Regions from separate parts of the Homo sapiens genome. Here region 2 is linked to region 1. The links come from fine-mapping of genetic effects on gene expression. Tissue or cell type: aorta. Region 1 holds a variant in brackets; the other region holds the start of a gene. All regions are shown on one strand. Distances are between the middles of the regions.

What was found. PIP is the estimated chance that this variant, and not a neighbour inherited with it, causes the effect.
Region 2: it holds the start of MPDZ, and the variant in region 1 is fine-mapped to the expression of MPDZ in aorta (GTEx, PIP 0.99).

Annotation. Positions count from the first base shown.
Region 1 is chr9:13,034,526-13,042,635 of GRCh38, reverse strand. It overlaps the pseudogene LOC100130801. Among named protein-coding and RNA genes, the nearest start is that of SNORD137, 66 kb to the right of the region's middle. RefSeq lists an enhancer at 4,551-5,067. The variant C/G (reference allele first, on the strand shown) is at 3,513.
Region 2 is chr9:13,275,499-13,283,608 of GRCh38, reverse strand. MPDZ (multiple PDZ domain crumbs cell polarity complex component) reads left to right here and starts at 3,917. Exons shown (of 47, transcript NM_001378778.1): 1 at 3,917-4,209. RefSeq lists enhancers at 4,294-5,009, 5,010-5,725, 5,726-6,441.

The DNA.
Region 1 (8,110 bases):
TGTTTTTCTCAGGTTTGTCAAAGATCAGATAGTTGTAAATATGCGGCGTTATTTCTGAGGGCTCTGTTCTGTTCCATTGATCTATATCTCTGTTTTGGTACCAGTACCATGCTGTTTCGGTTACTGTAGCCTTGTAGTATAGTTTGAAGTCAGGTAGTGTGATGCCTCCAGCTTTGTTCCTTTGGCTTAGGATTGACTTGGCGATGCGGGCTCTTTTTCGGTTCCATATGAACTTTAAAGTAGTTCTTTCCAATTCTGTGAAGAAAGGCACTGGTAGCTTGATGGGGATGGCATTGAATCTGTAAATTACCTTGGGCAGTATGGCCATTTTCACGATATTGATTCTTCCTACCCATGAGCATGGAATGTTCTTCTGTTTGTTTGTATCCTCTTTTATTTTCTTGAGCAGTGGTTTGTAGTTCTCCTTGAAGAGGTCCTTCACATCCCTTGTGAGTTGGATTCCTAGGTATTTTATTCTCTTTGAAGCAATTGTGAATGGGAGTTCACTCATGATTTGGCTCTCTGTCTGTTGTTGGTGTATAAGAATGCTTGTGATTTTTGTACATTGATTTTGTATCCTGAGACTTTGCTGAAGTTGCTTATCAGCTTAAGGAGATTTTGGGCTGAGACGATGGGGTTTTCTAGATATACAATCATGTCATCTGCAAACAGGGACAATTTGATTTCCTCTTTTCCTAATTGAATACCCTTTATTTCCTTCTCCTGCCTAATTGCCCTGGCCAGAACTTCCAACACTATGTTGAATAGGAGTGGTGAGAGAGGGCATCCCTTTCTTGTGCCAGTTTTCAAAGGGAATGCTTCCAGTTTTTGCCCATTCAGTATGATATTGGCTGTGGGTTTGTCATAGATAGCTCTTATTATTTTGAAATACGTCCCATCGATACCTAATTTATTGAGAGTTTTTAGCATGAAGGGTTGTTGAATGTTGTCGAAGGCTTTTTCTGCATCTATTGAGATAATCATGTGGTTTTTGTCTTTGGCTCTGTTTATATGCTGGATTACATTTATTGATTTGCGTATATTGAACAAGCCTTGCATCCCAGGGATGAAGCCCACTTGATCATGGTGGATAAGCTTTTTGATGTGCTGCTGGATTCGTTGTGCCAGTATTTTATTGAGGATTTTTGCATCAATGTTCATCAAGGATATTGGTCTAAAATTCTCTTTTTTGGTTGTGTGTCTGCCAGGCTTTGGTAACAGAATGATGCTGACCTCATAAAATGAGTTAGGGAGGATTCCCTCTTTTTTTATTGATTGGAATAGTTTCAGAAGGAATGGTACCAGTTCCTCCTTCTACCTCTGGTAGAATTCGGCTGTGAATCCATCTGGTCCTGGACTCTTTTTGGTTGGTAAGCTATTGATTATTGCCACAATTTCAGATCCTGTTATTGGTCTATTCAGAGATTCAATTTCTTCCGGGTTTAGTCTTGGGAGGGTGTATGTGTCGAGGAATTTCTCCACTTCTTCTAGATTTTCTAGTTTATTTGCATAGAGGTGTTTGTAGTATTCTCTGATGGTAGTTTGTATTTCTGTGGGATTGGTGGTGATATCCCCTTTATCATTTTTTATTGTGTCTATTTGATTCTTCTCTCTTTTTTCTTTATTAGTCTTGCTAGTGGTCTATCAATTTTGTTGATCCTTTCAAAAAACCAGCTCCTGGATTCATTAATTTTTTGAAGGGTTTTTTGTGTCTCTATTTCCTTCAGTTCTGCTCTGATTTTAGTTATTTCTTGCCTTCTGCTAGCTTTTGAATGTGTTTGTTCTTGCTTTTCTAGTTCTTCTAATTGTGATGTTAGGGTGTCAGTTTTGGATCTTTCCTGCTTTCTCTTGTGGGCATTTAGTGCTATAAATTTCCCTCTACACACTGCTTTGAATGTGTTCCAGAGATTCTGGTATGTTGTGTCTTTGTTCTCGTTGGTTTCAAAGAACATCTTTATTTCTGCCTTCATTTCGTTATGTACCCAGTAGTCATTCAGGAGCAGGTTGTTCAGTTTCCAAGAAGTTGAGCGGTTTTGAGTGAGATTCTTAATCCTGAGTTCTAGTTTGATTGCACTGTGGTCTGAGAGATAAGTTTGTTATAATCTCTGTTCTTTTACATTTGCTGAGGAGAGCTTTACTTCCAACTATGTGGTCAATTTTGGAATAGGTGTGGTGTGGTGCTGAAAAAAATGTATATTCTGTTGATTTGGGGTGGAGAGTTCTGTAGATGTCTATTAGGTCTGCTTGGTGCAGAGCTGAGTTCAATTCCTGGGTATCCTTGTCGACTTTCTGTCTCGTTGATCTGTCTAATGTTGACAGTGGGCTGTTAAAGTCTCCCATTATTAATGTGTGGGAGTCTAAGTCTCTTTGTAGGTCACTCAGGACTTGCTTTATGAATCTGGGTGCTCCTGTATTGGGTGCATATATATTTAGGATAGTTAGCTCTTCTTGTTGAATTGATCCCTTTACCATTATGTAATGGCCTTCTTTGTCTCTTTTGATCTTTGTTGGTTTAAAGTCTGTTTTATCAGAGACTAGGATTGCAACCCCTGCCTTTTTTTGTTTTCCATTTGCTTGGTAGATCTTCCTCCATCCTTTTATTTTGAGCCTATGTGTGTCTCTGCACGTGAGATGGGTTTCCTGAATACAGCACACTGATGGGTCTTGACTCTTTATCCAATTTGCCAGTCTATGTCTTTTAATTGGAGCATTTAGTCCATTTACATTTAAAGTTAATATTGTTATGTGTGAATTTGATCCTGTCATTATGATGTTAGCTGGTTATTTTGCTCGTTAGTTGATGCAGTTTCTTCCTAGTCTCGATGGTCTTTACATTTTGGCATGATTTTGCAGCGGCTGGTACCCGTTGTTCCTTTCCATGTTTAGCGCTTCCTTCAGGAGCTCTTTTAGGGCAGGCCTGGTGGTGACAAAATCTCTCAGCATTTGCTTTTCTGTAAAGGATTTTATTTCTCCTTCACTTATGAAGCTTACTTTGGCTGGATATGAAATTCTGGGTTGAAAATTCTTTTCTTAAAGAATGTTGAATATTGGCCCCCACTCTCTTCTGGCTTGTAGGGTTTCTGCCAAGAGATCTGCTGTTAGTCTGATGGTCTTCCCTTTGAGGGTAACCCGACCTCTCTCTCTGGCTGCTCTTAACGTTTTTCCCTTCACTTCAACTTTGGTGAATCTGACAATTATGTGTCTTGGAGTTGCTCTTCTTGAGGAGTATCTTTGTGGCGTTCTCTGTATTTCCTGAATCTGAATGTTGGCCTGCCTTGCTAGATTGGGGAAGTTCTCCTGGATAATATCCTGCAGAGTGTTTTCCAACTTGGTTCCATTCTCCCTATCACTTTCAGGTACACCAATCAGACGTAGATTTGGTCTTTTCACATAGTCCCATATTTCTTGGAGGCTTTGCTCATTTCTTTTTATTCTTTTTTCTCTAAACTTCCCATCTCGCTTCATTTCATTCATTTCATCTTCCATTGCTGATACCCTTTCTTCCAGTTGAT[C/G]GCATCGGCTCCTGAGGCTTCTGCATTCTTCACGTAGTTCTCGAGCCTTGGTTTTCAGCTCCATCAGCTCCTTTAAGCACTTCTCTGTATTGGTTATTCTAGTTATACATTCTTCTAAATTTTTTTCAAAGTTTTCAACTTCTTTGCCTTTGGTTTGAATGTCCTCCCGTAGCTCAGAGTAATTTGATTGTCTGAAGCCTTCTTCTCTCAGCTCGTCAAAGTCATTCTCCATCCAGCTTTCTTCCGTTGCTGGTGAGGAACTGCGTTCCTTTGGAGGAGGAGAGGCGCTCTGCTTTTTAGAGTTTCCAGTTTTTCTGTTCTCTTTTTTCCTCATCTTTGTGGTTTTATCTACTTTTGGTCTTTGATGATGATGATGCACAGATGGGTTTTTGGTGTGGATGTCCTTTCTGTTTGTTAGTTTTCCTTCTAACAGACAGGACCCTCAGCTGCAGGTCTGTTGGAATATGCTGCCATGTGAGATGTCAGTGTGCCCCTGCTGGGGGGTGCCTCCCAGTTAGGCTGCTCGGGGGTCAGGGGTCAGGGACCCACTTGAGGAGGCAGTCTGCCCGTTCTCAGATCTCCAGCTGCGTGCTGGGAGAACCACTGCTCTCTTCAAAGCTGTCAGACAGGGACATTTAAGTCTGCTGAGGTTACTGCTGTCTTTTTGTTTGTCTGTGCCCTGCCCCCAGAGGTGGAGCCTACAGAGGCAGGCAGGCCTCCTTGAGCTGTGGTGGGCTCCAGCCAGTTCGAGCTTCCCGGCTGCTTTGTCTACCTAAGCAAGCCTGGGCAATGGCGGGCGCCCCTCCCCCAGCCTCGCTGCCGCCTTGCAGTTTGATCACAGACTGCTGTGCTAGCAATCAGCGAGACTCCGTGGGCGTAGGACCCGCCGAGCCAGGTGTGGGATATAGTCTCGTGGTGCGCCGTTTCTTAAGCCGGTCAGAAAAGCGCAGTATTCGGGTGGGAGTGACCCGATTTTCCAGGTGCGTCCGTCACCCCTTTCTTTGACTCGGAAAGGGAACTCCCTGACCCCTTGCGCTTCCCGAGTGAGGCAATGCCTCGCCCTGCTTCGGCTCGAGCACGGTGCGCGCACCCGCTGGCCTGCGCCCACTGTCTGGCACTCCCTAGTGAGATGAACCCGGTACCTCAGATGGAAATGCAGAAATCACCCGTCTTCTGCGTCGCTCACGCTGGGAGCTGTAGACCGGAGCTGTTCCTATTCGGCCATCTTGGCTCCTCCCTCCAAGTATGTACATTTTTTAATGTCAGAAAAATCTTTCCACAGACTTAAATTATCGGGAAGAAGTTTCTTTTTTCAAGGCAGAGTTGCTTAAAATGGATTGGATGATTTCCAAGATTTTCAAAATAGGTTCTGATCTGGCTTGAGACATTTATACATATTTTTCAAAAACAAGACACTTTTGGGAAAATTAAATAAGATTAGAAGATGAGGCTTTCTGAGCAAGAAATGGGTTTTACAAATTAACTATTAAAAAGCCTACTTACTATAAATTCAATTTAATCCCAGTGAAATCCAAAAAGGTATTTTTTCTTTTTTGGTGGAAACGGAAAAGTTAATTCTGAAATTTACATGCAAATGAAAAGTATCTATAAGAGACGATACTACCCGTCAAAAGAACAATGTTGGACGACTCACACTATCTGACTTTAAGACTATAAAATGATAGTAACCTAAACAATATGGCGTGAGCAGGCAAGGAGATGGTTGGAACAAAATATATGCCATTAATTAATTTTCAACACAACGTAAACAGTCAACAATTTTTCAGTTAATGCTGTTTAATGGAGAAAGAAGTTTCTTTTCAACAAATAGAGCCACAACAACTACACAAATGTGGGGAAAAAATGAACTTTAATTCTTACAGCATATGCAAAAATCAGTTTAGGATAGATTATAGTTTTAGCTATGTGGTTAGGGCTGCAGGTCTCTTAGAATCATTGTGGTACCGTAAAACTATAGAGCTTCTGGAGGAAAATGCAATATTTTTGCAGCTTTAAGTTTGGGTGGATTGCTCAGAGGGGACACAAAAAGCAATAAATATAAAGGAAAGAGTTAAAAATTTGACTTTACCTGAATTAAACTTCCATTGATTGAAAGACTGTAGAAAATGAAAAGTGGTCCGGGCATGGTGGCTTACACCTGTAATCCCAGCACTTTGAGAGACCCAGGGGGTGGATCACTTAAGGTCAGGAGTTTGAGACCTGCCTGGCCAACATGGTAAAACCCCATCTCTACTAAAAATACAAAATATTAGCCAGGTTGCAGTGATCGCCACCTGTAATCCCAGCTACTTGGCAGGCTGAGGCAGGAGAATGGCTTGAACCTGGGTGGTGGAGGTTGTAGTGAGCCGAGATTGTGCCACTGCACTCCAGCCTGGGCAACACAGTGAGACTCCATCTCAGAAAGAAAAAAAAAAAGAGGAAATGAAAAGTGAAGTCACAGATTGGGAGACAAAGTATTTGCAATACATGTATCCGACAAACGATTTATCTCTCCTAAAAATGACATAAAAAACTCCTAAAAATCAATTTAAAAGAAGAAAAATAGCCTAATTTTTAAATGAGCAAAAGACAGATACTTTTCTAAAGGAAGATCCCTAAATGGCCAAGTTCATGAAAAGAAGCTCAACATCAATTGTTATCTGGGAATTGAAATTTGAAGCCCAAATGAGGTACCACTACACACACACAACAATGGCTAAAATTTTAGAATTGACAATGACAATATCCAGCACTGCTGAGGATGTGAAGAAACTGGAATTCTCATACATGTGGTGGAAATTGTAAAACTGTTCAACCACTGTATGGGGTTGAATAGTGTCCCCCAACTTCATGTCTAACTGGAACCTCAGAATGTGACCTTATTTGAAAATGGGATATTTACAGGTGTAATCAAGTTATAATGAGGTCATGCTGGTTTAGAATGGGTCCTAAATCAAATGACTGGTGTCCTTATTAGAGGATGGAAATTGATACACAGAGACACAGAGGAGACATACAGGGAAGAGGCCAAGTGAAGACAGATGAGCTTGAGGCAGAGATTGAAATTATGCTGCCACAAACTAAGGAATGCCAAGGGTTGCCAGCAACCACCAGAAGTTGGAAGGGGCAAGGAAGGATTCTTTCCTAGAGCTGTCAGAGGGAGTGTGGCTCTGAGAACACCTTGATACTGGACTCCTGGACTCCTGAACTCAGAGAATAAATTTCTCTTGTTCTGATCCACCCAGTTTTTGGTATTTTGTTATGGAATTCCTAGGAAAGGAACACCACCACTTTGAAAAATGTTGGCAGTGTCTTGTAATATTAAACACCTACAACTTCCCTATGACCCAGCAATTCCACTCTTAGGTATTCACCTAAATAAAAGAAAGCATATATCCACACAAATACATATATAAGAATGTTTATGGAAGCTTTAGTGATAGTAGTCAAAACTGGAAACATTTTAAGGATTTACGAAGAAAACGAATAAAAAATTATGTTCATATAGTTGAACACTATTCAGCAATAAAAGAATAAAGTACAAATGCACTCTACAGTGTGGATGAACATCAAAAATATATTGGGCAAAAGAAGCCAGACACAAAAAACGCATGTATACTGTGTGAGTCCATTTACATGAAGGTCAAAGTCAGGTAGAAGTGTTCTCAGGTAATAGAAACCAGTGAGGGCAGGGACTGGCCTGAGAGATCATGAGGAAACATTCTCACGCATTGGAAAAGTCATGCGTCTTGATTGTGGCAGTGTTTTACATTAGTGTATACACATTTGTCAAAACTCACTGGATTATTTCCTTAAATGAATACACTTTATTAAATGTAAATTATAACAAAACATAAACCTTGGAGCAAGCCCTCGTATATAATGCTTGCCTCAATCAAAAAGAAAAGAAAACCCCACTTTAAAGACTGAATTAAAAACTTCTATCCCCATTCCCTTTCTTTCTTTCTTTTTTTTTTTTTTTTTTGAGATAGGGTCTCTCTGTCATCCACCCAGGCTAAAGTGCAGTAGCGTGATCATGTCTCACGGCAGCCTCGACCTCCTGGGCTCAAGTGATCCTCCCTGCTCAGACTCTGTAGCAGCTGGGACTACAGGCACAAGCCACCATGCCGGGCTACTCTTTCCATTTTTTAAAACTGCATTAGTTATCTACTTTCTAAACTCACTTTTAATTCTTAACAGGTAAGTGATTATCATGTAACTTATTTTTGTTCTCCAACTTTTCCAATCTGCACTGAACGTAGCAATCGTCTGTAACTGTCTACTTCTTCTGTATATGTTGGCAAAGGCTTAGGTTTCAATTTCCCTAGCTGAGGGGATTATAATGACTTAGGACACCATTTGCTCTCTTGGTTATTTTGCTTAGGAAGGATAGGTACTTGCAGGGGCCAATGAAGGGCAAAGTAAAAATAACTATCCTGAACTACAGATACACAATTTAAACAGCATTCAAAATGTTCTTCTAAAAAAAAAAAAAAAAGGAGTACACAGAATTTGGCCTGTCACAGAACAAAGAAAATACCAGCTTCAGGTGGACAGTACCCCAGTTCCGTTCTGACAGCTTCTTGGCAACTGTTAAT
Region 2 (8,110 bases), 240 kb before region 1:
CATCATGAAGGGGGAGTATTACCTAAAAGATACTATGCAACTTGAACAAATTCTTTTCACTATTGTTATTGTTTTTCTTGATTTTCTTTTTGGATAACTCACTTATGCCCTCAGAGTATGCATAACAGGGAAGATATTTTGTAAGATAGTTCAAAATGTCATTCTAGCTGGCATAAACTTGAGGCACAGATTCTGGAACAGTTTGGATGTGTTTCTTCCTAAAATTAACCTGGCCCCAATGCTTTCTCCTGGAATTTCCTTATAGAGTTAGAATTTTGTGGGTACAAATGCAAATGAATTCAAGGTCAGAAGGTCATGACCTCCCAATGCCCTTTCTTTCATGCTTAGAGAGATGAGGCCTAATCAGACACACTGGAGATTTCAGAGCCTTTATCTCTCTATAAACAGTTTGTTATATGAAGAGAGACAGATTACTCTGTATGTTCTCAAAAGAGAAATAATTTTTACATTTTTCTCATTCCTGGGATTCTCTCTTAGTCATTCTCTCCCCCTAATGGCTTTCTCCTAGACACATATATATCCATTATCCTAATGTTCTTCTCTTTCTTCTTTATCTTCTTTTTTCAACCTTGACTTCTTTTCAATGGAGAGAAAAAATTAAGGATTATTTAAAATGCTTTTTAACATTGAACAAACTGAAAAAAAATTTATCTGAACTCTTCTTTTAATTGAGACATCTGAGGCAAATTGAAACCATAAAGTCAGTCAGCCAGTAGACAACATAAAAAATCTACAAACTATAATAAACTAAAACTGCACAGTTGTTATATATTAGATATCCCTTAGGTAGAGGGACTGGCAAGCATGCCATCTAGTTTGCATTTAAATGCTGCATTATTAATAAGAGTCACTGCTGGCTAAAGGTGATAAAAATAGCCCATCACCCCACTATTAGGATTACCCCAAATCAGTCCTTGGGAAAGGATTTGGTTCATAGAGTTCTAACCCTGCAGTTCTGTAGTAACATCTCCCAGCATGGGGGTCTCACCTACGTCTTGGCTATCTGCTGTTAAAAAGCAGAATGAAGACTGTGTGCTCAGCAGGCAACTAAAAGAATCCTCTGTTATTTTGGTGGATCAAAAGTTTAATTTCCAGGATCTGTCTTTTCAGCAGCCGTTAAAGGTTTTGAGTAGATAACCCGGGCCTTTCACTAGTTTTAGAGTTGGAGAGGAGCCACAAATGTAAAATAATATCATATACATAGTTTATATTTGTACTGTTCAATTATGATGAACAATAAATAATAAACCAACAATAATAATTTAAACCAATCTCAGAAGTTTCCAGGACTTTTTCCCTTATAAAAGTCCTCTGAATATGACTCAAATTTGAGAAAAACAAATTATTGTGGAGAATGCCTCACTGAGGATATAGGTGGAATGACCCCAGAGCCTGTATTAACATGAAATAGAAAGCATTATTAATCTATTTACGTATGGGGTTTCAAGCCATCCCATAGAGTAGAGCACCTCTACTCTATCTGCTTTACACTTTGTCTTTCTCTGCAAGATTTTATTTCAACTTTAATGTTTTTAACTTTTATTTTAGGTATTTTTTTTTAAACTAGTGCACTATATCCCCGGTGGATTTCTAGAAAATCTTAGGTTTTCTGGATTAGAACAAGTTAAAGAGAATAGAGCAATAGCTATACGGATTAACTTCAAAAGGAGAAGCTTCAGGGTGGAATTATCCCCAAACTCTGGATAATTTTATGCAAGGACTAATCTAAACCAGATGCCTTTTTATCCTCTGATATACTGCTGTTTAAAGAGGGCATGTGGGCTTTGCTTCGCTAAAGGAGACTAGAACAATAGCACCTTTTAAACCAAGGTAAAATTATTTGTTTTAATCTCATTTATCCACAATAAACCAGGGAATTAAATTTCTAAAACTTTCCTCTAATTCAGTTTTATGGGCTCTTTCCCTATGGTTCAATATAAAAAATGCCATTTAAAATTTTAGGACTCAAAGAATTCCTTCAGTAGCTAGTTATGAAATTCTTTTCCTCCTACACTACCCCAGCAGCTAACATTTCATGCACGTACTTCCTTTGTATTTGAGAATGACCAGATTTGAAAACTGACAAGTAGAAGTGCTATTCAAACAGGAGGATCCCTTTGGAATTTCTAAGCAATAAGAAAATCCTTTCCAAATGGGATGCCTTGAGGTGACTCTATGACAAGAACACAAAAGTTATATGGAGAAATTATTCATTCTTGCAGTCGTATATTCATCCTATTTCATATGAGTGCCAACCAAGTGTGAAGTTTTTACTAGGCTCTGAGGATAAAATGGTGACTTAGCCCCTGTTCTCATGGAGTTTATGGTTGAAGAGGGAAGAGACATTGCATAATTACAAAATCAAATGCATATTTACAAAGTAGGAAAAATATTATGAAGCAAAAGCATAGGGTACCATAAGAATGCATCACAATGGGTTTATCGTAGTTTGTGGGAATCATGTAGCATCTATGGCAGTTCCATTCACTGGGACACTGAACAAGATGACCAGGCTTGAGCAGAAGTATCACGGCTGCATTTTTTTTTGCAATCTAGGTTTGAGACAAGCAAACAGGGAAGCCAAATAAACACTTGAATATATGGATAAATCTGAAGGTATAAATGTAAGATTCTGTAGGTACGAGATCATAAGCTAGAAGTGAAAATGTATTTAGAGGTAAGAGTTAAAAGGAAAAGAGGGCCCGTAACTGATTTTTAAGGAATTCCAGCATCTAAAGATTGGGGGAGAGGAGGCAAAGAAGACTGAAGAGTGGCCTGGGGACAGGGGCAGATCTACCTGGAAATTGATGTAGCTTAACGTTCCGGGTCCTTCTCTTGCCTGGGAGCAACCCTAGCAATGTGTTTACATGGGCATTTATTTTTTGAATTTTTCTAAAGAAAGATTTTTTTTTTTTTTTTGGTTAAAGCAGAGCTCCCAATTGTACAAGCTTCAGAGCCCATACATCCGCCCTTGACTAAGCGGAAGAAGCAAAACCAAGAGTGTGATTGCATGGAATTACAAGAGGGGTGGGGTGGGGAGGACTCTAGGAAGAGAGAGGTCAACAGCTGTGAATGTGTTTGAAAGTCCAAGGAATATGAGAAAAAAGTATTTTTATTCAGAATATTAAAAGAAATTCTTTTAAATGTTCTAAATTGGACTTCTGAGTATCCTTTGGTCCTATAATCTAATATCAGAGGGATATTTTGAAAAAGAGTTTCTTATGCAGAAAAAAATTCGTGGGACTTCCAAATTGAGGATAACAGAAAGAAAATCTTAAGTGGCACAAAATAGAAATGAATATCTGTTCTTCCTGGGGCCATGCAACTCTAATAACTTTTCCATGTTTACTGTTTTTGCTTTTTAATTGGATCATCAGACTAAGAATGCACCCTGATGTGCGAAAAGTTACTTAGAAAGTGAGAGGACTGCCCCCACCCTTCTGATTAAAGCGCTTCTCATAAGCATCCTATGCCATTCAGTAAGCTACCCATGCAGAAAGCATCCACAGGGCAGTGCACATAAGGAAAATCTGAGGAGCTAGAAACAGGCTATCAGTTTCCGCAGGTTGACAAAATCGGCAGATAAAAATACAAGACTGCCATTAAATTTGAATTTCCGATAAACAACGAAGAACTTTTTAGCATAAGTACGTCCCAAATATTGCATGGGATATACTTGTACTAAAATTATTCCTTTTTTTTTTTATTTGAAATTCCCATTTAACAGAGCAGCCTATATTTTATCTGACCACCTCACAAGTCCACTACCCACACCCCAGGTCGAGCGGCCCAGGAGCGAGTTTAAAACCCCGCACAGGCCTGCTCGGCCGCGTCCCCTGATTGGCCAAGGCGCGCCCGCCGCCCCGCCGGTCGCAGGCGTCACGGCAGCCCCAGCAGCCTGGGCCCCGCCACCGCCTCCGCGGCAGCCCCGGTCGGCGCAAGTGCGGCGCGCGCTGGGGGAGGGGGCGCGGCGGAGCGCTAGGCTGGCGTCGGGCCACCGCGGGATTAAGTTTCTCAGTCACGCGTGAGTGTCTGTGCGTTTTGATCCGAAGCTCCTCGCCGGGTCGTTACTTCAGAAGAGAAGACAGTGAGCGTGGGCGAGGCGAGGCATCCAGAGGCCCCGGCGACCCCTGCTCCCCAGTCCTCCGCCCCCTCGCGTCGCGGCCCTGGGCGGGCGCCGCGAGCCGGGTAAGCGGCGCTTGAGCCCCGGCCCAGAGGCCGAGGCGCGCCCCCGCGCCCTGCGCGCGCGCCGGCGGGGAAGGTGCGCGGGCGCCCTGGGCTCGGCGCTTGGGGGTGGGGGTGGGGGCGGGGATGGGGGTGGGGGTGGGGGTGGGGGTAGGGGTGGCGGCGGGCCGTGGGGCGGTGGGGCGGTGCGCTTGCCCCACCCCGCGCGGCCCGGCGCTTCGCGGAAGCCGCTGCTGTGGCTTTTTTAAAAGGATGGGGTCTAGAAGTTTCCTTTGCTACTCGCAAGTCTCCACTCCCCCCAGCCCCGCGGTGGATAATCCTAGACCTTTCAGCACCCCCGCCACCCCTTTCTTTTGCTCTCGCTGACTAAGAGGTTTAAAAGTTTTTCCTTTTCCTTGACCCAGAGGGGCACAGTCTTGGTGTCGGGGGGCTGGGGGTGGGGTGTTAGCCTGGGGGCCCGGAGCGCAGACCAGGCCTCCAGGGCGCGGGAGCCTGTTGCTCTCCCCTGCAGGGGCCGCTCCCGGACGCCCCATCCGCCGTTACGTGGTCCCGGGATGTGCGGGTTGCGGTAGAGAGTGGGCAGCAATGCTCCTGGTCCTGCGTTCTCGCCTTAGCCGCGGGGACCCCGAGGCGAGCCGCTAATTGGTACCGGTGCCCCGTCCCTCACCCCTGGCACCGGCGCCCTTTTAACCGCCGCTCCCGTTGGTGGGAGCACGTTGGTCTTGTCTCTCCCTTAGTCTCCTCACCCCCCGCGCTGATGGGCGTCTTTGTCTGCGATTTGGCAGCCCCAGGATGCCGGATGTTACCAGGGAAGCGATGTTTGGGAGACGCTTTGTGTCTTGCGGAGTTGCGCGTTTGTTGGGTGGTGATGGTGTACATTTTTGTTTGCGTTCTTTGCAGAGGCACAAAGGCTGGGCTATTCTTGCCTGCAGTCACATGGAAATCAAGCGGAGACTGCGGGGGAGGAGAAGTGGCCAGGCGCCGGCGGGAGGTAGAGGCCGCTCCGTAGTCACTGGGGGCGAGTGGGGGCCCCTGGAGACCTCTACTGCGCGGTGCGGCTTTTGAGGTGCTCCGCTTGGGAAGACCCCGGCAATGGGCACTGACTGCCTTTTTGCAGTAGGGGCTGCGGTTGGAGGCTAGTGTTTCCTAGGTATCATCAGATAGATAAGAGGACCATGACTTCACCAGCGTAGAAGGAAAACTTCTCCATGTTCCTTGATGTCATAGAGAAGGAATCTGATAAGTGATCAGACTGCCTCGTCCTGCCTTGTAGACAGTTTGATGTAAACATCCCCTTCGTGTTTCCCTAGAAATTCCTGGTTTAGGTTACCCTTTATAGAATAAATAACACCTTATCTGAAAACTAACGAGGAGGAGGTGATGGTTTCGGGCTTGGGAGTTTTACATGTTGAATTTGGGTATGAGTGATTACAATGAACATCTTGTAATGTTGGAACTATCTAAATTTGTATAATGTATGCCTTAGCACCTGATGGAATTTTGGCAAACAATAGTGTTTTAAAAACCTAGCAAAACTTGGCCAGGCGCAATGGCTCACGCTTGTAATCCCAGCACTTTGGGAGACCGAGGTGGGTGGATCACTTAAGGTCAGGAGTTCAAGACCAGGCTGGCCAACATGGTGAAACCCTGTCTCTACTAAAAATACAAACATTAGCGGAGCGTGATGGCTCGCACCTGTAGTCTCAGATACTAGGGAGGCTGGGGCAGGAGAATCGCTTGAACCCGGGAGGCAGCGGTTGCATTGAGCCGAGATCGCGCCACTGCACTCCGGCCTGGGTGACAGAGCGAGACTCTGACTCAATAAATAAGTAAATAAATAAAAAATAAAAATAAAAGCCTAGCAAAACGTTCCTTGACTTGATCTTCTAATACAATACTAAGCTTTGGATGGAGGCACCTGTACCCTTGTGTGCAATGTAGGCAAAACTAGTTTTGGGTACCCCTTGACTCTCCGTTCTTCTTCCCTATCTCATTTGCCAAAACAAACAAACTAATGAAGATTATTCTCAACATATTACTAATAGATTATGGTGTACCTTATTTCTTACATATGTTCCTTTTTTTTTCCTTTGATCCTTTCTGTGTTTATTCTTTTCACTTACCTTCTCTAGTTCTGGTTTTCTTTGTCCCTTTACCACACTCCTTTTTATTGACTAGGCCTGAAGGTTGTGGCTTGGAAAGGGAGGGATCTTTAGTCAATTTTTAGTGTGCTTCAAAGTCCTATCACCTAGACATTGCTCTGCTTGACCCTTAAAGACATCTTTCCTTTTCAGATGCATTTAAATGTACCTAACTGTGAGGAATAGAGGCTGGTCTCAGAGTTTAGTATATTTCTACAAGTTGAAGCTATTCAGAGAGACTCTTGGAAATCCTTGATATGTAACTTTACATGGATTTAGGTCTAGTTGGCCACTTTTAGTTTTTAACTGCTAGGGTGGAGAGATTTTGCTTGACAAATGATCAAGTGAATCCATTGTCTAGAATTGAGATTAAGGGATTTAAAAGCTGGAGAGGAACAATGAATTGCCTGGAAGGTAACTATCCTCACTTAGAGGTAGATTATTTTCTCCAGATTACATCCCAGATCTGACATAGTCTTGTCTCTCTCAGGTTGAGTTGCAGGTTGGCTACATTTTGTATATTTGGAAACGTACAAAGTACTCTGAATTTCATGAAATATTTTGAGGCAAAGTTGGACTGGAATGTCCCCAAATATGGTAGAGCAAATAGCACATCTGCCAGAGAAAGATCCTACACTTTAAAGAGAAGAAGCAGACAACTTCCTGGTGAATTTAGGACTGCTTGATGGTGCGTATGAGTGATGATATATGTCCAAAACAGTTGTATGTACTTTTGAAAATAGATATTTGGCCTAAAGTAGGATTTCATTTGATATTGTTACGTACATTATCAACCCCATATTTATAACAATAAAGGTTTCATTTTTTCTTGTAAATTAGTGTCATGCATAGGAGAGCATTTATATAAGTACAGTTCGGAAATGATATTTAGCATGGTAAAATTGATATACTGTGATTAAATAATTTTAGTGGGATTCCATGTGGGAGAATAAGACTAAGGAGGTAAATAACTACTTCTCGATAAAGGAAACCAGTGGTGAGGAATCCATTGCCTTCCTGTGATACGTTTCCAGAGAAGATCCGAGGTATTCATGTAGTAGGTAGTAATAGATGGATTAGGAAGAATGTTGTATTGGGTTAGGCATTGGGGAGAGTACAGAATAAACATGATTCTGCTCCAGAAGTGTAGGGTCTTAGTTGGAGGAATCTAATGGGAGAAATAACAGAAAGGTTTTACATGTTAAAAATGTTACAGGGATTCTAGGAAAGTAGTGAAGTATAGGGATTAGTTGCTCTTATCATTGAGGTTAGTAAATAAGACACAGAAAGGCTTTGGTCTTGAGATGAGAGGGTGGAAATGAAAGTTTTTTTGATATGAAGTAGAGCTTAAGTCAGTGGTTTTCCCTTGAAAATGGACATGTATAGAAGAGGCTGGGATGTGAGTGGGCAGTGGGTACTGGAGAGCATATTCAATTTGTATATTTCTGGAGTGGAATAGAGGATTTGTGCCCAGGGGAAAAGGTTGGATAGGGAAGAGCAATTAATGGAGAGCAATGAAGTATAGGCTGACTTTTATCTCTTGAAGTTTCCACTTTCCAATAACCCAAGTCACATTTCCTTCTGAGAGTTAACCTCTTCAGTGCAATCTGGGCTTTTTCTAACATGCACCCTAAAACGTTTGTAGCCATTACCTATTACCCAGTTCCAAAGCCACTTCCACATTTTTGGTGTTTGTTACAGCAGCACCCCATTTCCTGGTACCAAAATCTGTATTAGTTTGATAGGGCTGCCTTGACAAAATA